Linked DNA regions of Homo sapiens: region 1 is linked to region 2. A link means that fine-mapping ties the variant in region 2 to the expression of a gene that starts in the linked region. Tissue or cell type: whole blood. Region 2 holds a variant in brackets; the other region holds the start of a gene. All regions are shown on one strand. Distances are from middle to middle. Region 1 holds the start of SPON2 (spondin 2). Region 2 holds the start of LOC124900164.

Evidence for each region. PIP is the estimated chance that this variant, and not a neighbour inherited with it, causes the effect.
Region 1: SPON2 starts here. The variant in region 2 is fine-mapped to the expression of SPON2 in whole blood (TOPMed, PIP above 0.99).

The regions. Positions count from the first base shown.
Region 1 is chr4:1,167,637-1,178,109 of GRCh38, reverse strand. It overlaps SPON2 (spondin 2), which reads left to right and starts at 5,527. Exons shown (of 6, transcript NM_012445.4): 1 at 5,527-5,566; 2 at 6,036-6,258; 3 at 6,624-6,847; 4 at 6,920-7,111; 5 at 7,534-7,708; 6 at 10,454-10,473. The coding sequence starts at 6,039. All of the region lies in intron 1 of LOC124900647 (nascent polypeptide-associated complex subunit alpha, muscle-specific form-like), which reads right to left. RefSeq lists enhancers at 600-709, 4,914-5,631, 5,632-6,347.
Region 2 is chr4:1,195,397-1,209,944 of GRCh38, reverse strand. It overlaps LOC124900647 (nascent polypeptide-associated complex subunit alpha, muscle-specific form-like), which reads right to left. Exons shown (of 3, transcript XM_047416477.1): 2 at 13,149-14,548; 3 at 10,907-12,814. LOC124900164 reads left to right here and starts at 8,688. Exons shown (of 1, transcript XM_047416479.1): 1 at 8,688-9,319. The coding sequence starts at 8,688. The coding sequence ends at 9,302. It overlaps LOC100130872 (a long non-coding RNA gene), which reads left to right and starts at 983. Exons shown (of 4, transcript NR_024569.1): 1 at 983-1,369; 2 at 4,829-4,963; 3 at 8,483-8,676; 4 at 9,898-14,162. It also overlaps a transcript of SPON2 not described here. RefSeq lists enhancers at 1,350-1,419, 7,598-7,797, 9,038-9,257, 9,753-10,302, 12,185-13,384. The variant C/T (reference allele first, on the strand shown) is at 9,637.

The sequences.
Region 1 (10,473 bases), 30 kb after region 2:
CCCTCGGTGTGTGCAGAGCCCGTGGTGTCTGGCCGGAGGGAGGCCCTCAGTGTGTGCAGAGCCCGTGGTGCCTGGCCGGAGCGAGGCCCTTGGTACATGTCCGTGAGTGGACAAGCAAGTGTGATGTGTCTGGGTGGGCTGGCAAACACAGGACTTTTCAGGTGGGTTTTCAAATGCGCAGCAGGGTCCCTTGGGGGAGCCAGAAACTGATCCTGGAGTCTGGGTGCTCTGGAGGAGACGGCCGCTCCCGTGGGTGGGTACTCCGCGTCTGAGTCAGCTGGTGTGGTGTCAGCAGATGTGGCCAGGAGCTCCATGCTGCTGGGCCAGGCCTGGGTGCCTGTGCCGCGCCCCAGGGAGGGGCTGTGGGCAAGCCCTGAAAGAGCCGTTGACATGCCAGACCCTGAGGGCCCCCATGCCAGAACCCATGCAGAAAGGTAAAGAAGGCCTCTCCCTTCTCAGCTGGGACCCCTGCCCCCTGAAGGGATCTTGGGTTCTGGGGCCCGGGGCAGGGCCACAGCCTGAGGCGAAACAGAGCAGGGTGGCAGTTAGGGGAGGCTCGCCAGGCATTCCTGTATGCCGTCTGCTCCACGCGGCTCACAAACAAACCCATGGAAACCCCACACCCGCCTGCTCAGATCCAATTTAAGCAGCACAGACTCCACCCCCGATGCCTGACTGGGAAAGGAGCTTCACAGCACCTGCGGTTGTCCAAAAGTCCAACCTTAGCAACACATTTTGGTTAAGACAACTTTTAAACATTGCCAACACCCTGGGAGTGTGGGCGCTGATTACTCACACTGTGGTCTACACTTACCCAACCACAGCAGGCACTAAGGGGGTGTCAAAGACAAGGGGGTGCCTGCTGGGGCCGTGGCAGGGCAGCCAGGTGGAGCTGGATGTGGACACAGGGGCTGCTCTGCCCAGCTGCAGACAGGCAGCAGCCACTGGCTCCAGCCACAGCCTTGAGCCACACTCTCCTGAAAACCACCTTGGGGCAAGTGGCTCAAGTGACCTCCAGGAAGGCCCTGTCCTCAGAGGACCCTGGCATTGCTGTCAACCAATTCACTAAACACTTTACTGAATAAGAGAATCCAATCTACAAAATGTATCCACTCCACCCCAGCCCCCTGCAACCTTGGGCCTAGTGGGGTCACTCCTTTGTCCCCATCTCTGAGATGCAAGGAATACTCACCTTGTGGTTAATGAATGAATGAATGGTGTGAATGAATGAATGAAGTGTGTGAATGAATGAATGAAGTGTGTGAATGAACTGTGTGAATGAATGAATGAACTGTGGATGATTGCATGAATGTACTGTATGAATGGATGATTGAATGAATGTACTGTGTGAGTGAATTAGTGCATGAATGTACTGTGTGAATCAATGTACTGTGTGGATGATTGCATGAATGTACTGTGTGAATGGATGATTGAATGAATGTACTGTGTGAGTGAATTAGTGAATGAATGTACTGTGTGGATGACTGCATGAATGTACTGTGTGAATGGATGATTGAATGTACTGTGTGAATGGATGCTTGAATGAATGTACTGTGTGAGTGAATTAGTGAATGAATGTACTGTGTGAATCAATGTACTGTGTGGATGATTGCATGAATGTACTGTGTGAATGGATGAATGAATGTACTGTGTGAGTGAGTGAATGAATGAATGTACTATTTGAATGGGTGGATGAATGAAAGTACTGTGTGAGTGAATGAATGAATGTACTGTGTGTGTATGTGGGGGGCTGCTCCTGCCTGCGGGCACAGAGGAACTCTTCTGTGTGGGTGGGGGGACACCTTGCAAAGTGCTGGTGTGTGAGTTACACCTATGGATACTTATCCTGTGACCCTCAGCAGAAGGCAGGATAGAGACTTCTGGTTCACAGAAGAGGGTCTGAGAGCCAGGGGGGTTTCCAGCAAGACTCTGAGAGCATGGAGTCACACAAGATCACTCCGTCACTGGCCTGCAGTCCCTGCCTCAGTGCAGAAACAGCTCTGCCTGAGACCCCAGCCCGATCCAACCCAAGGGGCCACAGGATCCAGAAAATTAAGCCCACCTGGCCCCAGTTCTCCCATGTCCCCCTCTCTGAGCACAGCAAAGAATGCTCCCATGTCCCCTGGTGCCCTAGGGCCTTCGCAGGCGTGCTTTTGGAGGGGCCTCCCACTACCAAAGGAAGTTCCTCCTGGCTGCTGTCTACTCCAGCCCTCCAAACAAGCCCCCTCCCTTCCCAGACAAATCAGCTGTGGCCCTGCCTGGAGCACCTCCAAGGCCTCGGTCTACCACCACCCCACATCCTAGCTAGAGACCCCCAGGCCTAGGCCCACCACTGCCCTACATCCTAGCTGAAGCCCCCGAGGCCTGGGCCCACCACTACCCTACATCCTAGCTGGAGATCCCCAGGCCTGGGCCTACCACCACCCACATCCTAGCTGAAGCCCCCGAGGCCTGGGCCTACTACCACCCACATCCTAGCTGGAGAACCCCCACCCAGGCCAGGGCCCACCACCACCCTATATCTTAGCTGGAGACTCCCCCCACACAGCCTGGGCCCACCACCACCCACATCCTAGCTGGAGACCCCCCAGCCTGGGCCCACCACCGCCCTACATCCTAGCTGGAGACCCCCCAGCCTGGGCCCACCGCCAAGTGGGGGCCCCAGGTCGCAGAGCTCACTGAGACGGCATGAGGGCCGGGCTGGGAGAACAGCTCCTGCTGCCCCTGGGCTGTTCCGCAGCCTCCTTGGCCTCCTGTGAGACTGGGTGAGCCTGGAAGCCGCTGCCACGGCCAGAGCTGGACTGAGATGGGGACTGTGCCTCAGCGAGTCTCTGGAGCGGCACCCTGGCTTCCTACACAGGAACATGCCCCAGACCCGGCGCCTCCTTCCTCTCCTCAGACCCAGAGCCAGTAGCTTTGCCATGGAGCCTGTGCTCCTTTCAGCCGAGGAAGCTGTCCAGAAAGCGAGGATTGTCCAGGGATGCAGAGTAGCTGCAGTACAGCCGCCCCATGCCGCTCTGGGAAAAAGGCCTGTGGATTCGAGTCCAGCCTCTGAGCAGCGGCTGCCAGTCCTGCTCTGGGGACTCGTGGAGGGCCTGAGATCCTTCCAGGCAGATGATGAGATCGAAGCCCATTGCATGAGGGCACCTTTTGCTCCCATGCTCTGATGGGCACACGGCGGCTTTCGAGGGCTGCAGGCCAGAGCAGGCACCTGACAAGGCTGGTAACATACGCAGCCAAGGCTGGATTTTCTTCATAGACTTCAACCAACAGCACATCTCAGCAGATGAAGTGCTGGAGCCGATATGGGAATCCAGCTTCCACTAAGCCGGACAATACAAAGATTCGCACCAACGTAGAACCACGCCACTTTTCTCAGGCGGGTTTTTCATTTTTAAAAGTATGATTGCTTTTCATAAAACATTATGCTATTTATGTTAATGTGTAATAGCAATATTTTCTTATTTTTAAGTGAATTGGCAAGTATTCTGAACATTTCTGTTATGATTTAGAAAATGATAAGTATCCATAGGTATAACCCATACAAACAAAAAAGTTCTTCAGTGTCCTCAATTAGTTTTTTTTGTTTTTGTTTTTTGTTTTTTTGTTTTTTTTTTTTTTTTGAGATGGAGTCTCGCTCTGTTGCCCAGGCTGGACTGCAGTGGCGCGATCTTGGCTCACTACAACCCCTGCCCCCTGGGTTCAAGAAATTCTCCTGCCTCAGCCTTCTGAGTGGCTGGGATTACTGGCGTGCACCACCACATCCAGCTAGTTTTTGTATTTTTAGTACAGATGGGGCTTCACCATGTTGGCCAGGCTGGTCTCGAGTTCCTGACCTCAAGTGATCCGCCCGCCCTGGCCTCCCAAAGTGCTGGGATTACAGGCATGAGTCTCACTCTGTCGCCCAGGCTGGAGGGCAGTGGCACACACAGTTCACTGCAGGCTTGACCTCCCCTGGCTCAGGTGATCCTCCCACCTCAGTCTCCTGAGTAGCCGGGACCACAGACACAGTCTCCTGACTAGTTGAGACCACAGGCGCACTCCACCACACCCAGCTAATTTTTGTATGTTTTGTAGAGATGAGGTCTCCCTGTGTTGCCAAGGCTGGTATCAAACTCTGGGCTCAAGTGATCCTCCCGCCTCGGCCTCCCAAAGTGCTGGGATTACAGGCATGAGCCACTGCGCCTGGCCCTCAGTGACCTTTAAGAGTATGAAGGAGTCCTCAGATAAAAACATTTGAGAAGCACGGAGGTGGAAATTTGTCTTTGGCCTGGGGGCCTGGAGTCTAAATACTGCATTGAGTGGCTGATCTGTGGTTTTCGCTTAAAATACAGGTTAGATCATTTGTTTCTGTTTGCATTCTGTCCTAGTTGCTTCTATTTATTTTTTCTCTCTTTTTGAATCTGTGAAACATTAACAGGGTTCCAAACATCAGAGTGTTTTGTCTAAGCTTAAAAGCCCTCTGGGTGATTCCGATGAGCAGAGGCCGGGAAGGATTGAGCAAGACCATTCCCGAGCTCCTTCCTCCGCTCTGTTTCCAGATCCCATGACTGGGGACCTATAAATATTTTCCTGACATGGAGCAGGATCAACTTCAGCATCTGTTAGCTTCATCCCAAAGGCAGGGAAGCCTAGAGCCCCTGGGAGGGCTCTGCACCGCACACACCGCCGGCCTGCAGCCCCAGCCCTGTGCGGGGTCCTGGGGAGGGGGGCCCCCTTTCTGTGGCTCTTCCTGACTCCCTGCGCGTTCCACCCCAGACCCTCAGCCCACTCTGACCTCCCTCCAGGAGGGATGGCTTGCAAATGCCCTCTGGCCACAGTGCAGACCGCTAGGCTGTTCTGTGCAGCTTTAGGCCATGCCAGGAAAGAGACTTAAAGCCAGGGCCCCAAAGGCCAGGGATGCCTGCGCCGGGAGCCAGGAGCTTCCCCAGCCACTTCCAGCATGTAGACTGAAGTCAGGCCACGCACAGGGCTCTCCAGGTCACACCCTGCGCAAGAAGGTGTAGCACGCTGGCTCTAATTTCGAGAAGGTGAAAACAAGAGCCCCTCTGCCCCCACGCCCTGAGCTTTCCCGAAAGGCTTGGGGCAAAGAACTCCCCTCAGTGGCACCTAGGGAGGCACCAGGAAGGCGCTTGTTGGAACGGGAGAGAAACGGGGAGAGGGAGGAGGACAGGGGGGAGGGGAGGAGGGGAGGGGAGGAGGGGAGGGGAGGAGGGGAGGGGAGGGGAAGGGAGGGGACAGGGAGGGGAGGGGAGGGATAGGACAGACAGACAAAGAAAGGGGTGCGGCAGCACTGCCAGGGGAAGAGGGTGATCCGACCCGGGGAAGGTCGCTGGGCAGGGCGAGTTGGGAAAGCGGCAGCCCCCGCCGCCCCCGCAGCCCCTTCTCCTCCTTTCTCCCACGTCCTATCTGCCTCTCGCTGGAGGCCAGGCCGTGCAGCATCGAAGACAGGAGGAACTGGAGCCTCATTGGCCGGCCCGGGGCGCCGGCCTCGGGCTTAAATAGGAGCTCCGGGCTCTGGCTGGGACCCGACCGCTGCCGGCCGCGCTCCCGCTGCTCCTGCCGGGTGAGTACTGCGTGCCCCCGGGACACCCAGAGAGGGCCCGGGCCTCCTGCACTTTCCCCGCGGCCCAGAACCTTGTGGCACCTCCAGAGGGACCCCCAGGACTGGCTGCGACCGAGCTTTAAGGGTCTAGTCCCGGGGGCAGCCAGTCGGCCAAGGCCCCGGGTCCCTGCGACGGCGAAGGCATCCCGGAGGCCGCACCCAGACCGGCCCGGCAAGCTGCAGGGACTCGGACTGAAAACCTGCCCGTTACCCCTGGTCGCTCGCAGGCGCACGGGCGATCTAACCCCGCGCCGTCCATTCCGCTGATGGGGGTCTCGGAAGCACCGCAGGAGAGCTTTGCGGAGCAGGGAGGGGGTCGCGGGTGCTCGGGGCCGTCCTCAGAGCCCAAAGTGCCGCAGCCCTCTCGGCTTTCCACCCCGAGGCTGCCACGACGGTGCCAGCGCGCGGCTGCTCCCCTCTGTGCTCCCAGGTGATGGAAAACCCCAGCCCGGCCGCCGCCCTGGGCAAGGCCCTCTGCGCTCTCCTCCTGGCCACTCTCGGCGCCGCCGGCCAGCCTCTTGGGGGAGAGTCCATCTGTTCCGCCAGAGCCCTGGCCAAATACAGCATCACCTTCACGGGCAAGTGGAGCCAGACGGCCTTCCCCAAGCAGTACCCCCTGTTCCGCCCCCCTGCGCAGTGGTCTTCGCTGCTGGGTAAGTACAGCCCCCTCCTCGCCTCCTGCTCCACCAGGAGGGCTGCGGCGCCGGAGCCCCCCGCACAGCTGCACGGCGGCGCTTCCCAGTCTGGGGCGTGCTGACGTCGGGAGACTCTAACACCAGAATGTTTGCCGAGCGCCTGCGGTGTGCGGTTCCGGGGATGCGGTGGGGGCAGGGGGCGCTCACGGGGAGGGCGCAGGTGGGTCGCGGCAGGGGCAGCCACAGGGTGTCACGGTCCGACGTGACTGGGGGCCATGGTTCCCTGCGGGCGGCGGGGAGGGATTTCCTGGGGCGCCCCCTGGAATCCAAGCCCGACCGCAGTGTCTGACCATGGTCCGCGGCGCGGCCGGGTGGTCCTGCAGGGGCCGCGCATAGCTCCGACTACAGCATGTGGAGGAAGAACCAGTACGTCAGTAACGGGCTGCGCGACTTTGCGGAGCGCGGCGAGGCCTGGGCGCTGATGAAGGAGATCGAGGCGGCGGGGGAGGCGCTGCAGAGCGTGCACGCGGTGTTTTCGGCGCCCGCCGTCCCCAGCGGCACCGGGCAGACGTCGGCGGAGCTGGAGGTGCAGCGCAGGCACTCGCTGGTGAGCGCGGGGCCGGCCGGGGGCGGGGTCCGGGGGGCCGGGGCCAGGCGCGCTGAGCCGCTGTCGCCGCAGGTCTCGTTTGTGGTGCGCATCGTGCCCAGCCCCGACTGGTTCGTGGGCGTGGACAGCCTGGACCTGTGCGACGGGGACCGTTGGCGGGAACAGGCGGCGCTGGACCTGTACCCCTACGACGCCGGGACGGACAGCGGCTTCACCTTCTCCTCCCCCAACTTCGCCACCATCCCGCAGGACACGGTGACCGAGGTGAGTGGGCACCCCGCGTGCGCAAGGGCCGCTATGGCCCCCGCGGTGGGGACGGGGCTGGGGCCTGGCTGCACCCTCGCCTCCCAGCCCAGGACAGCCGCTTGCGGCTTTTGTGTGGAAGAGGCTCTGCTTCTAGCGCCAGCAGTGAGCAAGGGGGTGCAGCCCTCCCATACTCTCCCAACCCGGGGTCACAGCACCGCAGGGAGGACAGCGGGACGCGCGTCCCGAGGAGGCTGCCCCTTCCTGGCCTCGGTTTCCAGCCCGTGTTCCGTGGGATGGCTGAGAGGAGTACATGGGACCCTGTCCCCAACAGTGGTGCAGAGGGCACGCTGGACGCTGGGCAGTGGCCCCAGTGAGGCCATACGCATACCAGAAGGTGGGCTTCTCGGACCCCAGGCCAACCTCCTCTTCTTCCTCCCCAGATAACGTCCTCCTCTCCCAGCCACCCGGCCAACTCCTTCTACTACCCGCGGCTGAAGGCCCTGCCTCCCATCGCCAGGGTGACACTGGTGCGGCTGCGACAGAGCCCCAGGGCCTTCATCCCTCCCGCCCCAGTCCTGCCCAGCAGGGACAATGAGATTGTAGACAGCGCCTCAGGTAACGGACATACAGGTCACATGGGACACACAGCAGCCCCGAACCCTGCCACAGGGCGACCACCAAACCCGAACCTAAGGCTCTGAGAAATTCCAAGTAGGGATTCGTAGTGCGTACTGCAAGATGGTGCCTAGAAGATTTAGGATTCTGTTGATTCACACACTGAAGATGTGACTCTTGCACATTATTTGCAGTTGAAAGCATCTTACAGGGCCACAGCCCAGAGGAAAGAATGAAAGGAGGCTCCAGACAGTACCTGAGAGACTCTGTCCTGTCAGACACGCACCCACAGGTGACCTGTGTGTCACAGCTGACAAGGAAGCTTGCTAGGATGGCCCTGTGTGGCCACCGGGTGACAGCTATGCTGCAGGGCACCTGTGGGGGTCTCGGGACCCAGCCACCACACAGCTCGGGGCTCTGCTCACAGGCGCCTTGGCCTGGGGCGGGGCAGGTGCTGATGAGCATTCTCCTAGCTCTTCCAGGCACCTGCTGGACAGGGCAGGCTGGGAACGCTGGGGCCGAGTGGCAGTTCCCTCCCTACTCAGCTGGGTGGCAGCCACTGGCCTCACGGAGCGCCTGTGGTCTGGAGCGCATTGCTGGGTCGTGGGTCAGGGCCTGTTGGCTCTGGGTCTCTGGGTCTCACCTGATATGGGTGTGGGACAGTCAGTGTAGGCCCCAGACAACAGCGGACTTCAGACTTTCCCGAGGAGGAACTGGAGCCCACCAACCTGGCCATGGGCCCCGTCGTCCTCCACCCTCCATGTTGCTGGCTGGAGTTGAGGCAGGTACGGGGCCGCCCCACACCTGCCCCCCAAGCCATGTGGTAGGGACAGATGTCGTCTTGAGGAGCAGCAGTAATTACAAGCTTACTGTCAGCCGTCCCTGGAAGCAAGGGCCAGGTCAGGTCAGACAGGAGGCCGCCTGGCTGGCGGGAACCACTCCCCAGACAGAGACTGTGCCCAGTCCTGGGTCCCTCCTCATTTGGGATGAACTGGGCCTCCCTGTGCCAGCCTCGGTGCTGCCCCTGCCCAGTGCAGGCTTGGGCTCCTCACTCATTTGTCCACGCGGATGCCCCATTCCAAGCAGATGTCCCCGAGCCACTTACCCAACAGGCAGACGTGCCAGCACTGTTCGTGGTGTGCAACTGGTCTGGCGGGAAGAGCCCCTCGTGGGCAGAGGGTCCAGAGAGGTGCGGTTTGCCCCACATTTGGGGGCACTGGGCCACAGTGGGCAGGGGAGCACATGGCCAGTGCCCTGGGCTAGGAGAGGGATAAAGTCAGCTGTGGCCAAGCAGAAGCAGTATTGCAGGGGAAGGGTGGGGAGAGACTGTGCTATGAGCTCTGAGCAGGAGGCAGGACATGGAGAGAAGGGTGGGAGACGGACAGAGCCAGCTGTGCCAGCCGAGGGACCAGAGTGGGCAGTGGGGACGGAGCACAGACCACCGCCCACAAGGGTCTCTCCTGTGACTTCTGGCTTCCCGAGGGCAGAGGCTGGGATGGGCATGTGGCGGCTGGCACCCAGGAGGCTCCGCCAGGTCCACGCCAAGCCAGCCTGGCTCAGCTCTGGCTTCCTGCTCACACGCTGGATGCCTGTCCCCAGGCCTCCTGACAGGGCTCTGCAGCATTGGAGAGGCTTGTGGTGGGGCCCTCGCTGTAGAACAGGCACTGCCAGTGCTCACTGACTCCTCATTGCAGCCAGGGCAGGGGCGCTCCCACCACCTCGGTTTCAGTCAGGAAGCTGGGGGGTGCTGGGATCTGCCAGCAGCTCTGTGTGCTCCCCAGGTGGGCTGCCCGGGGCCCTGGCTCTCTGGCTTCTACACCAGTGCCCCTGCGAAGCCTCAGCGCCCAAGGTCTTTGCAAGCCCTGTTCCTGCATCTCTGGAGAGGGCTGCTCCAGGTGTGGGCCTGGCCAGGGCTTCCAGACCAGTCCAGGCACTGCACCTGCACATTGACCCCCTTCTCCACTCTCTCTCATCCTTCAGTAGCCACAAAGCTGGCAGCAGGGTACTCGCAGATTTGTGAGGAGAGCCGAGCCCTTGCTGACTGTCCTCCCGTGCACGGCAGAGTGAGGCGGGGCTCCTGGCCTCCTTAGGGGCTGCCCGCTCTGGGCCACACAGCCAGAGAAACACTGTCCATCTGGCTGGCTTGGCCTGTGGGGTGCAAAAGAGGTGTTTTCACTTTGCTTTGGAAACATGGAAATTACCAAGTGACTTAACCATAACACCAAATGATGATTTTTAAATTTATGAAAATTATGGAACCAGATGGGACACAGGGAAACGAGAACGATACTGAAAAGGTCTGAGTCCTGTGGGGGGTCCAGGTCCCGCAAGACAGCTAATCAGGTGCCCCTGTCTGTTATTCGGGTAAATGTAGCAGCTGGGTCCAGGCTCGGGCAGAGCAGCTTTCTACAGCAGGGGTGTCCGCCCTCTCCCGGGGTTCCCACGGGGTTCCCAGGGGCCCCTTACTCTGCCACGATGTGGGAGTTCCACCACCACAGGGACTTGAGCGGCAGCTCCGGCTCTTACGTAGAAACGCGCAACTCCAGTCCCTAGGTTGTGTCCGAGGTTGCTATGGTGCCATCCCATCTTGCCGCTCACTCTGCGACTGTGCGGAGAAACGCAAGTGCCCCCGAAGGGTGGGCGTGGCCTCTGATGAATGCACACGTTGGTGGGAGGTGGCTTCCGTTTGTACGAAGCGCCTCTTCACGCGAGCGTTCACCTCGGTCTCCCCTTTGCTTGGTCCAGTTCCAGAAACGCCGCTGGAC
Region 2 (14,548 bases):
ATTGTTTCCATGTTTCCAAGTTGAAGGGTCGGGGCAGGAATGGAATGCCTCCAAGGGCTGTCTGTGGTGTGAGCCTGGCGGCCAGGGAGCCGGGACGCTGAAGTGTAACTGAGTCTGGGATGTAAGGGACAGAAAGCTGTCAGAAAAGTGCTCTGAGCCTCGAAACGAACCTCCCCTTGGTGCCGCCTCCGGGGAGTCACCCCGCCCAGCAAGGCCCCAGGAGGGGTGCGGGGTAGCAGGAGGTGGGTGGGGGGCCCTCAGCCTCGGTTTCCTGGCCTGTGAAATCGGCAGCACTGTTTATCTCCCTAGAGGCTGGTATTAGGCTGGAGGTTGTGCCAAAACGCTTAAGACAAGAACATGAAGGAAGGTTTGCATGTTGGAAGGGAAGAGATAAGTCTCTGGTATTTGCTGACAAGCATCTGTGTACAAGACCCAAGAAAATCAGCCAAAGCCTGCAGCTAATCCTGAGACTGGCCAGGTGACCTCACAGGAGCGCCTCTGGTGCCTGCCAACTGTCTCCCCCAAGCTGAGGCGGAAACAAACGGAAACAAAGTCGCAGACAGCGGGTGCCCCATGACAGGACGTGTCCTGCTCTGTCCTTACGACGCAGGGTCTGGCCTGCTCACGCGATTCCACAGTGAGTGGGCACAGTGGTCAGAACCTGGTCCCAGCCACTGGCACCCGGCTGGTAAAGACCGTGGGAGTGACCAGGGCCGCCAACCGTGGTGAACGGTGAGGCCGCCGGATGACCAGACGGGCTGTGCTCGCGGGCGGCGGGCTGTTAGTGTTGTAAACTACATGCGCTTTAAATACCTTTTACCGAGTGCTAGAGCCGTTCATCACCACCCCACGCAGAATTTCAGCTGCTTACGTTGAACAAATTCAACAAGTTTATCCTCAAGTTTATATGCAGCAACAAAGGTCTATGAATTTGGGCTCATAAAACTCAGGCGAATTAAAGAGGAAACAGCCACAGCAGCCTGGTTCTGACACTGAGGGCTCCGGGGCAGGGGCAGGGCCCGCTGGCTTGGCGTGCGCGTGCGTGCACAGGTGTGTGGGTGTCTGCCTGGTGGGCGGGCGGCGTGTGCGTGTGCGCATGTGTGTTTGTGAACTGGCGATGTGATCGAGGGCACGGGTGCTGGGCTTCCCCCTCATGGGTAAAACCAGAGCTACTGTATGCCAGCCGTGGAGGCATGGACGGCCCCTGAGCTCGGACAGCAGACGGACAGACCGTTGACGCGTTGGCACCGTGGCCAGAGTCCGTTCAAGAAAGGTCGGCAGAGAGGGCTGAGAACGCGGCAGGCACATCCTCCAAGGGCCCTGCTGGAACCCCTGGAGCAGGAGGAAGCGGTGATTCTCCAGGCCTTGGGTAGGGCTCAGAGGCAAGAGGGGTGGAGCTGGGGAGGGTCGGGCAGCCCCAGCACCTCAGGCTACTGCGCCTTGGTGGGGAACTCTCCTGCGGCTGCTGATGAACACCCGGGCTCTGGTCTCCTGTAGACTTCCGCCCCGGGCACGGGAGCAAGGGGAGGCTGCAGGCAGCTCCGGGGGCCTTGGCAGGAAGTTGGGAGGGTCGGGACAGTCCCTCTGGGGTGGCCCAAGCAGGGCACAGGGCAGGGAGCCAGGCTCTTCGGGGCCCCACCCCAGGCTGGCCCTGCACCCCATCCTGCCTTCTCTCCCCACTGTGGGCCCAGAACTTGCCCCGTGGGGGCCGGGAAGCACCCACCATCCCCACCCCTAGCTGCTCTCAGCCAGAGCCCAGCTGGACTTGCAGGATTGATTTTCCAGCAAAAAACAACAGCAGAGAAACCCAAGAGCAGCTGCATGAGCCCTCCCAGGCCTACCCCCGCAGCCGGCACTCCCTGCAGCAAAGAAAACCATCTGGCCACTGGGCCCTGAGCCCGGCGCCCGGAGGAGGACCTCTGCCCCGCTGAGCAGCTCTGCTCCCCAGGCTGGCCCTGGGCCTCTCGCGGCCTGACCCGCTCCCCTTGGCATCAAGCACCAGGAGGGACGGGGTGGCCCGGCCAGGGCGTGGGTGTTCCCCGGCCCCTCTGAGCACCAGCACCTGGTGAGTCTACCTCCGCTTCCCCAAGCCCTTGACCACTGCCCTGGACAGCCTCAGCCGCCCCCTGACCCGACCTTCAAACGGGCCAAGGGCTTCCCATGTAGGGTCCGAAAACATCCCTGATAGGCAGGACATGAGACTTGAACAATATAAGGTTAGGTGCATCTGTAAGCGCGGCGCATGGTTAGGCAGCCGGACCCTCTGGAGCATGTGTAAGCGCGGCGCATGGTTAGGCAGCCGGACCCTCTGGAGCATGTGTAAGCGCGGCGCATGGTTAGGCAGCCGGACCCTCTGGAGCATGTGTAAGCGCGGCGCATGGTTAGGCAGCCGGACCCTCTGGAGCATGTGTAAGCGCGGCACATGGAAACAGCGGCTCTTCTGGGTGGCCTCTCTGCTGCCCTTTCTTTTTTAAACCAGCTACTGACCCCGTTGGTCAGTGGTAGCAGTGTCTGTAGGATCCCACTGTGGAGGGCTCGCCACTCACTATCCAGGTCCCTGATGCAAGCTGGCTCCAGCTGGGGGTGCCCACTGTGGGGACGCCGGGGCCAGCCGGGGCCAGGGCTGTGGACACTGGTGGGACGGAGGGTGTCGAGCAGCCGGACTCACCCACATCCCTCCCAGCCCCTACAGGCGTCTAGGCCTCCGGCCTCCACCCCCTCTGTGCAGTGGGCAGTCACACCTGGCGGGGCCCGGCTGCCTGCCCAGACAGCAGGTTCTCAGCAGCAGCCCTGGCGTCCCAGGTCAGCCTCTGCCCAGCCCCACATTCACCTGACAGTGCCTCCCGGGCACTGCCCTGCACCTGCCCACACCAACTCCAGCCTCCTCCCCGTGCTCCCCACCCGCCCTGCACCTGCTCACACCTAACCCCATCCACTCCCAAATGACACCATCCACCCCCACCCACCTCCAATTGCCCCACACCTGCCCCACACCTGCCCCCACTGCCTCTTCTCCTGTCCCTATCTCCTCCCACCCTCCATGTGTCTCCCACCTATCCCCTCACCTGCTCACACCTGCTCACACCTGTCTGCCCCTCACCTGTGCACTCGTGGTCAAAGCCATCTGCTTTTACACCTACCCCACACCTGGGGTTCGCCTTAGACTGGGGTTTGTTCTCTGCTGCTGGCGGGGTCCCGGCTCTTCTGCCCCCTGAGGGAGACCTCACAGGGCAAGGCCGCTTCCCTACCATGAGCCTCAGGCCCTGCCTCCCCTCTCCGCCTGCAGAGCTGAGCCTGGGGAGGCTCCTTCTATTCCAAGAGCCCCACTCAGCCCGCTGGGTCCCCGTTCCCTGAGGAGCTGCTGCTTTTGCTGGGCGCCCCAGCCCTCCCACAGGGGACACATCTGTCCTGGAGAGACCACCTAGGGAGGCATTTGCTGTTGGTCCCTGCCCCGGGCCCTCCAGGTCACTCCCTCTTCTCGTCTGTCACAGCGTGGCCCTCTGGCCCCACAACCTGGGCTGCCGGCCTCCCCCTGCCCTGGCAGAGCAGTGGTGGGGCCAGACCAAGGGCTGACAACCGCCAGCCCCTTCAGCTCGGCCTAGGCCCACGGTCAGCCCAGGGGAGCTGGGGGCTGCAGCCGGGTGGGTGAGTGGCACCCGCAGACCCTTGGCAGGGCCCTCTCCAGTCCTGGGTGCCCTGAGAGGCTGCTGGGGTCCAGCTGCTGCCCGCTGGCTCCCGTGGGGGCACACATGAGGAGCAGGGAGGGGGGCATCCTCCTGTTCATGGCCCCGGGTCAGCCTTGGGTAGGGCAGGGTCACCCTGACAGCCCCCAGCCCAGTACCAGGGGAGGAGACCAGGCAGGAGAAGCCCTCCCTGGAAATGCAAACCCAATGCTGGGCGTGGCCTCCTCCCAAAAGCTCCGCCCCCAACCCCCCACTCCCTGGTCAGGGTTGGGGGCCTGGAGGGAGACAGAGGCCAGGAGGCAGCCAGGGGAGCTAGGGGTGGGCATCGGGCGGAGCATGGCTTCCTGCGGCCCCAACCCCCAGGCCCGAGCGAGGAGGTCTCAGAGGCCCCTCCTGGACCTTTCTGCCCATCCAAGCTGAGGGTCCCAGTTTGTCAGCCGAGGGCCTGCACAGCTTCAGGGGTGAGAGGGGCCCCTGGTGGGGCCTGGTCAGGTGTTTGTGGGTGGGACATCTGAGTGAGGGAGCCTGGGCGGGCCTGGAGGCCCTGGGGCCGTGGTGACGCCAGCATCTCCCCTGATCAACACCAAATGATGCCCCTCCCTGGGCCCCCACCCTTCCCAAGGCTGCCGTAGGCACTGCTGGCAAAAGCCTCGGATGCTTGGGCTGGCAGGGAAGGCCAGGCGGCTCCGATGGGGCCTCTGGGGACAGGATTGCGGGAGGCCAGGATCCTCGTTTTTAACCCTGAACCTTAGCACCTCTGCAGGGTCCCCCAGGTGCTGGGCACGGCTCTCCCTGGACAAAGCCCACAGCTCCACGGATGCCAGCTGCAGTTCTAGTAAAGATGTGGACATGGAAACCGAGGGGCAGGGTTTGCCCCTGGGTGCAGCTGCTCCGAGGAGGCCCCAGCTCAAAGGTGCCTCCCCCCATGCCCAGTTCAGGCATCGGGCCTCAGCCAGCGCCACCTCCTGTGTCCAGGAGCTCCGGGCATGGCCTCTTCCCCAGGACCTCAGCCGGGTGCTGTCTCCACCCACAGCCAGTTCCTGTCCATGTGCCCCCAGGGCCCTGCCCTGTGCAAAGTCTGGTCAGCGTTACGGGGAGGGCGTGGCGAGGGCACAGGGAGGGGACAGCTGGGTCTTCCGCCTTAGCCACAGGGACAGGCCAGGCCTCACAGCCAAGAGCCCCGGGAAGAGCTGCATGCACACGGCTGGAGAGAGGCTCTGCACCCGAGCACAGCCTGCTGCGACTCCTCATAGACCCGGAAAACTGATTAGAAGGCAGAGGTGAGTTTCGGAGGGTGGCTGTGCACAAAATTCAGAGTCAGGAATCAGCATCTTTCAAATTCAAGCACTTCCAGTTAGGAGAGACAATGAAGAAAGAAAAGGGACCATTCCCAACAGCAACAAAAATTGTAAATTTCTAGGAGCAAACGGCGGGCACATCTATACCTGTTATAGAGGGTCTGAGGCCTGACTGAGGACCACAGACCAGCAACAAGCCCGGTCTGTCCTGGGCGTCACGAGGTGCCGTCCCTCGTGCTGGCCGGCTGCCACAGCGGGGCCAATTAAAACACCGGAGAACCCTGGAATCAGGTAGATTGATTGTGAAGTTAACGTGGAAAAATAAGTAAGAAAACTAAGGAAATTCTGGAACAAAAGATGAACAAGGGAACCGTGGCCACCAGGTTTTAACACACACCGGAGGCTGCACCTAGGGAGCCCCGTGTGGAGCTGGTGCGTGGGTCGCTCACAGTAACAATGCGAACGGTGAACACGCAGGCATTACAGACACGCCAAAAGGACGTTTTGAATCAGTGAGAGGCTGTGTTCAGATCAGCAGTGCAAAGCCACCCTCCCGGGTCTGTATCCTGCAGACAGTCAGTGCCCGTCTAATATTCTGGGGACCCCTGCACATCAGGCTGAGGTCATGGGGTCACACAGTAGCATTTCTCTGCATTTCTGGCTAATGACTGAGCAGAAAGGATGTGTATCGGCTCCAGGGTAAGGTAGTGAAAAACCAGTGTGCTAAAGAACTCTCACAGCTCAGCAATACAAAGATAAACAACCTAGTTAAAAAATGGGCAAACTGGGAGAGGCCGGGCGCAGTGGCTCACGCCTGTAATCCCAGCACTTTGGGAGGCCAAGCTGGGGGGACCATTTGAGGTCAGGAGTTTGAGACCAGCCTGGCCAACGTGGTGAAACCACATCTCTACTAAAAATACAACAATTAGCCACCACGTGGTGGTGCACGCCTGTAATCCCAGCTACTCAGGAGGCAGAGGCAAGAGAATTGCTTGAACCTGGGAGGCAGAGGTTGCAGTGAGCTGAGATCGCGCCACTGCACTCCAGCCTGGGTGACAGAGAGAGACTCTAACTCAAAAAAAAAAGGCAAAAGAATTTGAATAGATGTTTTTTCCAAATAATATATGCGACCAGCCAACAAGCTCATGACAAGCTGCTTAACACCATTAGCCACCAGGGAAATGCAAATAAAAACCACACGAGACCACACCTCACACCCACTGGGATGGCTGGAACCGAAAGCATCATAGGTGTCAGGGCGGAGACGTGGGAACCTCACATGCGGCTGTTCTGTTCTTCAAAGTGTGAAGCCGAATTCCATGTGACCCAGCAATCCCACTCCTGGGTACACGTCCCCGAGAATCAGAAACAAAAGCTTATCCACACAAAAGCTTATCCACAAATGTTCCTGGTAGCATTATTCACAATAGCCCAAAGGTGGGCACAGCCTACATGTCCATCTGCTGAGGGACAGATGGGCACATTGTGGCCTGGCCCCACACTATTCTTCACCCGTAAAAAGGAATGAAGCTCTGGCCCATGCTCCAAAGTGGATGAACCTCGCAAACATTTGCCAAGTGAAGGAGGTCAGACGCAGACGGCCACATATCACATGAGACCATTTATGTCAAATGTCTGGAATGGGCAGGTCCACGGTGACACAGAGTAGACTCCCAGCTGCCCGGGGCTGGGGGCGAGGGCACAGCTGGGGGAAAATGGGAAGGGTCTTAGTCCATCCCCGCTGCTGTAACAAAACACCTCAGACTGAGTAATTTATAAGCAACAGAAATTTATTTCCTGTAGTTCTCAAGCTGGGGAGTCCAAGATCCAGGTGCCGGCAGGCTGGGGTCTGCTGAGGGCAGCTCCAATGGCGTATCCAGCCTCACATGGCAGAATTCGGAGGAAAAACAGCCAAGCTAGTTCCTTCTAGCCCTTTTATAAGGGCCCTGAGGACAGAATCATGGCAAGGGATGAGACCCTGGGGCACCTTTGGGACCGCAGAGCTCACTGCCTGCCTGGGTCTCCCCCGATCCTGGCCCAGCCCTCCTTGGCCGCCCCAGCCATGGCTCAGGCAGGTGCAGGCGCAGCTCCAACCATCGCTCCCAAAGGCACATGCGGGGGGCCTTGACGGCATCCACGGGGCGCTGACACTGCAGGCGATGGTGGCCTGCACCCAGATTTCAAAGCATGTTGCTGACAGCCTTGGGGCCCAGGCAGAGGCTCATCGTGGGGTTGGAGCTGCCTCGGAGTCCCCACCGAGGCTATGCCCACCGGAGCTGAGGTGGGGGCTGCCTCCGAGACCCCAGGACTGCAGGGCCACCAGCGAGCAAGCACAGCCTGGGAGAGCGGCAGGCAGGAGACTCCGACCCATGAGCACTGAGTGGGCTGAGCCCACAGAAGCCGTGGGGGCCCAGCCCTGCCCCCATGTGTCTGGAAGGTGGGCAGGGAGTCCAAGATCATCCCCTGTTCATGTATCCTATGAGTCCTGTCCCTCTAGAGAATGCTGACTCATATGATTTTGTATGTGAGAGCGGTGAGTACTGGGCCTGGCGTGCAGTGCCGTGGTTGGAACGTTTCCGTCCTCTAAAGCTCAGGCTGAAACTTAGACCCCGTGGAGTGCCGGGAGGTGGGGACTGATGGGAGGTGTTTGATCCACTCACGAGGCAGAGCCCTTGTGACTAAAGCCACCATGAAAAGGGCTTGTGGGGCAGACCCACCCTCCAGCCGGTGAGGATGCGACGTGCAAGGGCCATCGTGGAAGAGGAGAACCCAACCTTGGCCTCCAGACGGGGAGGCAGGAAGTCTCTGTTGATAAACTGCTGTCTGATGTTCTGTTGTGGCCTCACTCAAACCGTGGCGGGGAGCGGTTGCTAACAGGCACAGGACGTCTTCTGCGGATGATGAACGTGTTCCGGAGTGAGATGAGTGGGGATGGTTGCACAACTTCGTGAACATGCTAAAAACCACTGAATTGTACACTGTAAAGAGTGACTTGTGAGCATGTGAATTTCATCTCAATGAAGCTGTTTTGCGGGAGCCAGGTGAAGCACTGTGGAGGCCACGGCTCAAGAAGGCAGCACCGGCTGGGCGAGGTGGCTCACGCCTGTAATCCCAGCACTTTGGGAGGCTGAGGTGGCTGGATCACGAGGTCAGGAGATCGAGACCATCCTGACTAACACAGTGAAACCCCGTCTCTACTAAAAATACAAAAAAATTAGCCGGGCGTGGCAACCGGCGCCTGTAATCCCAGCTACTCAGGAGGCTGAGGCAGGAGGATGGCGTGAACCCAGGAGGCGGAGCTTGCAGTGAGCCGAGATCACGCCACTGCACTATAGCCTGGGTGACAGAGCAAGACTCTGTCTCCAAAAAAAAAAAAAAGTCAGCATCAGAAAACCAGAAACTGCGCGCGGACCTCAGTGTGGCAGGCACTCCCGGGGTGCAGACGGGGTGAAGGCAGCCTTCTCTGTGGTCACGTGCATGTAACGGCACCTTCTCTCTCAGGGCCTCCTCCCTCCCTGCGTGGTTTGGGGGCTGTTCCTGATAGCACAGATGCCCTGATCACAAACACCTGCCTGCATTGCTGACCACAGGCCTGGCCTGGAGAAACCCACAGCCTCTTCAGGGAAGCGAGCAAGGGGCTTGGAAGTGCCTGAAGCCAGTGGGCTGGGGACTCACGGCCGGGACACTCAGGGCAGGTAGGGCGGGCATGGGGCCCCAGCATGGCACAGGGCCAGACCCACCCCCTCTTTGTCACTGCCCACATACTGCGGGGGGAGGGGCTGGAGGAACTGGGGCACCTGCATTTGGCCTGCAGGGAATCTGGGTCCCGCTGGCTGTGGGTGACCGCAGAGGGCCATGTGGGCAGGGTGCATCCATGGGCGCCCCAGGCCAACCTCGTCAGGGTGGGAGGGGGAAGGGCCAGGAAGCCTCAGCCCAGACCAGGTATGGTGGGAACAGTCCACACGGGAGGGGCCAGAACCGTCTAGAAGGCCCTGGCGTACAGGTCTGCTGCAACAGAGCCAGGAGGGCACGGGGGTGCCCACATCCAGGGCAGAGGCACCACGTGGTGCTCAGTCAGTGGTCAGGGTCAGGCCTGGTTGGTGGCATTGAGGACACTGCAGACTTGGCCCCACCTCCAGGAGCTGGGCTTTCTCCACTTGCTCACAGCAAAGGCAGGGACCAGAGGGGTGGGGGGCTGCACCCACCCTCTCCTCGCTGCTCCCCTCCCCCTTACCACCCCGTCCAGCGATGTCCACGCAGATGGGAGAGTTGTGAGGGTCGTCCACACCTGGCCTGCAGTGGCTGCCCAGCTTCCTGCTAGGGAGATGGGGCCGGTGCTGATGGGGAACAGCTGTTGTGGGGGCAGCCAGAGGAAACCACGTTCCCGTGGGGTGAGCTCATGGTTTACACGTTCCCTGCCAGATCCATAACATCCTGGAGGCAGAAGCGCAGAGGCTGAGCCCGCCCCCGCCCCCGCTGAGCCTCCCCTGCTCTGACACCAGGGCGGCTCAGCCATCCTCGCTTAGCCTGCACCTCCTGTCCTGAAGCCCCTTCCTCCCTCCACTTGCTCCCTCTGTCATTTACTCCCCAGCCCCGACCCACCCTGCTCACCCCTGAAGCTTCTCTGGGTCCTGGACTCCGTTCTGCAGGCTGGA[C/T]GCCTTCTCAACTGTCCGTGGAGCCTGCCTGGTCTCTGGGGGTGTTGAGTGAGGGGTGACCCAGGAAGAACGTGTCAGAGACAGTGGACAGGGAAGCGTTTCTCACCCCTTAACTCACAGCAGCCCCACCGGGCGGACACAACCATCAACCCAGCCGCAGGTGTAGAAACTGAGGCACACAGACGCGATGTGGCTGCCCGTCTGGTAACTAGCAGCCGGGATTGGAGCCTGGGTCCAAGCTGCCTGTTCTTTCTTTCCTAGGCCGTGCGCCGTTTCTCCTGGAATAACTGGAGGTGATTTCATGGAACCTGGAGGCTGGGCTTCAGGCTGGGGGGAGAGGCTCCAGACTGGGTCTTCTCCGTGGCTCTGCCCCCCGCTCTCCTTGCTTGAGTGGTGGGGGCCCTGCATCCTCTCATGCCCACCCCCACCTTTCTCGCCAAATTGTCGGAGGCTTTTGTCACCTGGAGACACTGTTCCTGCCAGCTCCGGTCTTGGAAAACATGGCCTCTCCTCTCCTGCCCTGGCCCCGGCCCCTCCTGCCAGCTGGACGTGGGCATTTCTGCACCCAGTAGAACCCCACAGCCAGGAAAGATGCCTGGAAGGCTAGAGAAGAGGCGTGATGGGGGGACCCCATGTGTGGCGACAGAGCAGCACACCCAGCTATTCTCAGCCACCATGTGGGAGAGAAATGACGCCTCTGTCGAGCTCCCCATGGCCGGAGCTGCTCCATACAGCATCCTAACCTTCACCCCCAACTACTCAGTTGCCATGGCAAAGGGAATATTTTGACTCCCTTTTTTTAAAATTTCCAGGTGATTATTGCTAGAGGAGTGGGAAGTTACTAATTTTTGTATATTTATCTTGTATTAAAATGTTTTTACTGATTTTTAATTTTAATTTTAATATTTTTTGAGATGGAGTTTCACTCTTCTGGCCTAGGCTGGAGTGCAGTGGTGTGATTTCGGCTCGCTGCAACCTCCACCCATGGGTTCAAGCGATTCTCGTGCCTCAGACCCCCGAGTAGCTGGGATTACAGGCATGCACCACCACGCCCGGCTAATTTTGTGTTTTTAGTAGAGACAGGATTTCACTATGTTGGTCAGGCTGGTCTCGAACTCCTGATCTCAGGTGATCTGCCCACCTTGGCCTCCCAAAGTGCTGGGATTACAGGCGTGAGCCACCGCACCTGGCCTGATTTTTAATTTTTAAATGAGGGAGCAGAGGCATAACTAGGTTTACAATCATGTCATCAACAAAATAAATTGTCTTATTTTTCTGATATTTGTGCCATTTATTTGGTTTTTCTATTAAGTTTGCCAGAACCTCCGAGAAAATGCTGGACAATTATGACAGCAGCAGGCCCCACGAGTCGACCCTGGATTTGTGACATTTGTGTTTTCCACGTAGAACGATCTTGGCCACTATTGTGGACAGAGACTTTTGCACTTTTTTCTATTTTACTAGAAATAGTGCTTTTATTCATAAAGATTGCTGAATTTGGTCAGTTTTCTTTTCAGTACCTGTCGGTGAGGTTCTCTGAATTTTCTGTGCTAATTGGCTAATGAAATGACGTCTCTGATGACTGCGCTGCCCTCGTAAGCCTGGCCTTCATCTGCTTGGCCATAACACGATGCTGCCGACGCTGTGTTGGGTCCTATTTGCTGTTCTCTTGTGTAGAATCCGCCGACGCTGCGTTGGTTCCTATTTGCTGTTCTCTTGTGTAGAATCCGCTGATGCTGCATTGAGTCCTATTTGCTGTTCTCTTACTTAGATTTTTTTGCATCTGCGAAAAGTGATATTTGTCTATGGTTTTCTCTTTTTGTTCCACATCAGGTTTTTGAATTAGATTATCCTGGTTTCATGAGATGAATTACAGAGTTTTCCATCCTTTCATGTCTTGGGAAGGTTAAAGTAACCCTGGGATGACTTTCCTTCCATGGAAGGTGAGGTCATCGTCAGCTGCGGACATCTGCTCCTGGTGCCTCCTTTCCTGGCTCAGCTCTCGCCCTCTCCAGCACCTCGTGCTCATCTCTGCGTGGTGCCGCTCATCCAGAGTCATTCTGGACTTTACACCCACGACAACATGGCTGCTGCAGGTTTCGAAGCAGCTGCCCCGGCCGAGCGGGCTGTCTCATCATTCCTCCAGCCTCTTCCATACTGGGGTCTCTTTCTTCCTAATCATGTGTGGGTTTTTTTATTTCAATGTACAAAAATTCTAAATAGAGGTAGTCATTTATTTGTTTTAGTTTTTTTTTTTTTTTGAAACAGAGTCTCACTTTATCACCCAGGCTGGAGTGCAGTGGGACGATCTCAGTTCACTGCAGCCTCCACCTCCCGGATTCAAGCAATTGTTCTGTCTTAGCCTCCCAAGTAGCTGGGACTACGGGCACGCACCACCATGCCCGGCTAATTTGTGTATTTTTGCAAAGACACGGTTTCACTATATTGGCCAGGATGGTCTCAAACTCCAGGCCTCAAGTGATCTGCACACCTCAGCCTCCCAAAGTGTAAGCATTACAGGCGTGAGCCACCACGCCCAGCCTAGGCAGTCATTTCTTGATGCAGCTTTTGGGCTGGGCAAGGGGATTTTATTTTATTTCTTTCAGAAAACAATCATTTCTCCTTTTTACTTATTTGTTTTCTACTCATTAATTTCTGGCTTTATCTTCATAATTCTCCCTACTTTTTAAAATGCACTTTATTGTTCTCATTCTAGTTTCTTAGGGTGGCACAAAGTCCCTCTCGTTTATTTTTTCCTCTAAAAAATAAGAGCTGTGCTGGGGGCTCTGGGCGCTGCATTAGCTGAGTCCTCGATATTTATGGATTGATATTTATGGCTTCTCGGCTTTTCAGAGAGTGCACGTTCAGATTTAATATCCTGTTTTACCCAAGGGCTACCTGGGAGTGTGTTGGTTTCTAAGTTTCTGGGGGAAGAGGTGGCACTTTCCGTTATTTATTTTACAATTTTTTGGATAACAGGATCATTTTAATTATTCTACTTTTTAGTTCCTTGAGGTTTTCTTTGCAGCCAATACACAACAGACATGGACTTATCGGAAGTCGGAACGTTTGGAAGCTCTGTTTCCCGTGAGGAATCTTCGGAAGCGCTGTTTCCCATGAGGAACGTGAGCATGACCATCCATATTGATCTGTCTGCATTTTTCTGTTGCCACTAGACCTAATTATGGAGAGAGAGACACGGAGGGAGCTCCTGTGACCCTCAAGTCCCCTCATCATGTCCCCGTCCTGTTGGCTTTCCGAGTTTAGCTCCCATGTTTGGACCATGGAGGTTTATGTCTTCTATCTCAGTCATCGTCCCTGCCACATGCCCAACCAGACATGCTGACATCACAGGCCCTACTTAGCCCTGTTTCCTCTCCCCTTGGCCTCACCTTGATGTCAGGGGGGTGTCCTCTGGTCTGACTCAGAGGCAGTGACTGGCTTCCTTCTAGTACCTTCTCTGGATAATGAGTATGGATGACATACCTTCTAGTGTCTGCTGTCGCGCTTACCGGTGACACTTCTGGGCTGGTTTGTGATGCCTGGGATGGAGCCGTCTCCCTAGTGGTCATGGATGATGTTTCACTGTCCCCTGCTTCTGGTGGCACAGATGAGAACTCCAGGCCTCGTGCTCTCTCTGCTGGCACACACATCTTCCCTCCATGCTGGCTGCACACCTGCCCATGGGGTTTCTGCAGGAGAGGAGACAGCCAGAGGCCCAAGTGGGGTGTGTGGCAGGCAGGCAGCAACCCTGGTCACTGCAGTGGCCTCTGCTCTGAGTCTCGGGAGTAACCCTGGTCACCGCAGTGGCCTCTGCTCTGCTTCTCAGCTATGCCTGGTGTGACCCCCAGGGTCTTGGTCGGCATGAGGCCACAGAGCTCACGTGCACTTCCCGCAGCTGCTTCCACGGTATAGATGAGAGGTTCCCATGGAGCTCACATGACCTCTAGAGACTTGCAGACCCCTATGCTGTCAGACAGAGGAGGCTGAGGCTCAGAGAGGCACAGTCACCTTCTTGAAGATGCACAGCCGTGAGTGAAGAAGCTGGGATTTCTCCTGGTCTCTCTGACCCTGGAACACGTGGCCTCTGGGTGTGCCCAGTAAGAGACGTTAAAGAAGGGCCTCCCCCATGAGCCCTGACTGAGGCGGGGCGCTAGGCACCCCATCGATGTGCTTCGTGGTTCACAGGGGAGAGGCAGAGGGCCTGTCGGGGGGCAGCGATGGGGCAGCCAGAGGGGGCGGTCCTGGCCTGTGTGAGCCTCCTTGAGGGGAGGGTGCCAGGAACTACCCCATGATCTTCTATTCTCATGTAAGCCACAAGACCCCAACCCAGATCCCCACAGCAAAGGCGAAGTCACCAACTCAACAAGGCGCGTGGCCAGGCGTGGGGCTCACGCCTGCAATCCCAGCACCATGGGAGGCTGAGCAGGAGGATGGCTCGAAGCCAGGAGTTCGAAACCAGCCTGTGCAACACAGCGAGACCGCTCTACAAAAATAAAAAAAAATCAGCTGGGTGTGGTAGTGCACACCTGTAGTCCCAACTACTTGGGAGGCTGAGGTGTGGGCATCCTGGGGCTGGGGGTCTCCGGGGTGGGGGGTCTGGGGCAGGGGCATCCCAGGGCTGCTGGCCATGACCAGGCTTTGCGCCTCTGCCTGCTGATGGCCCTGGGGCTGTGATGGCGGTTTTGCACAGAGCCCACCCTCCAGCCCTGCTTGCTGAGGGCTACTCGAGGGGCTGCGGCAGTGCCTACCCACATGTGGTGCCCGGGATGCAGCCCCCATCCGCCCAACCTCGAGCTGTGCCTGGAGAGGCGGGGGGAGGTTCAGGTGCCATGGCAGCCTCCAAGGGGCCGAGGACTTAGGGAGGGTGCTGGAAGCTGGCCGGCCTGTGAGGGACCCCTGAGGCGCAGGG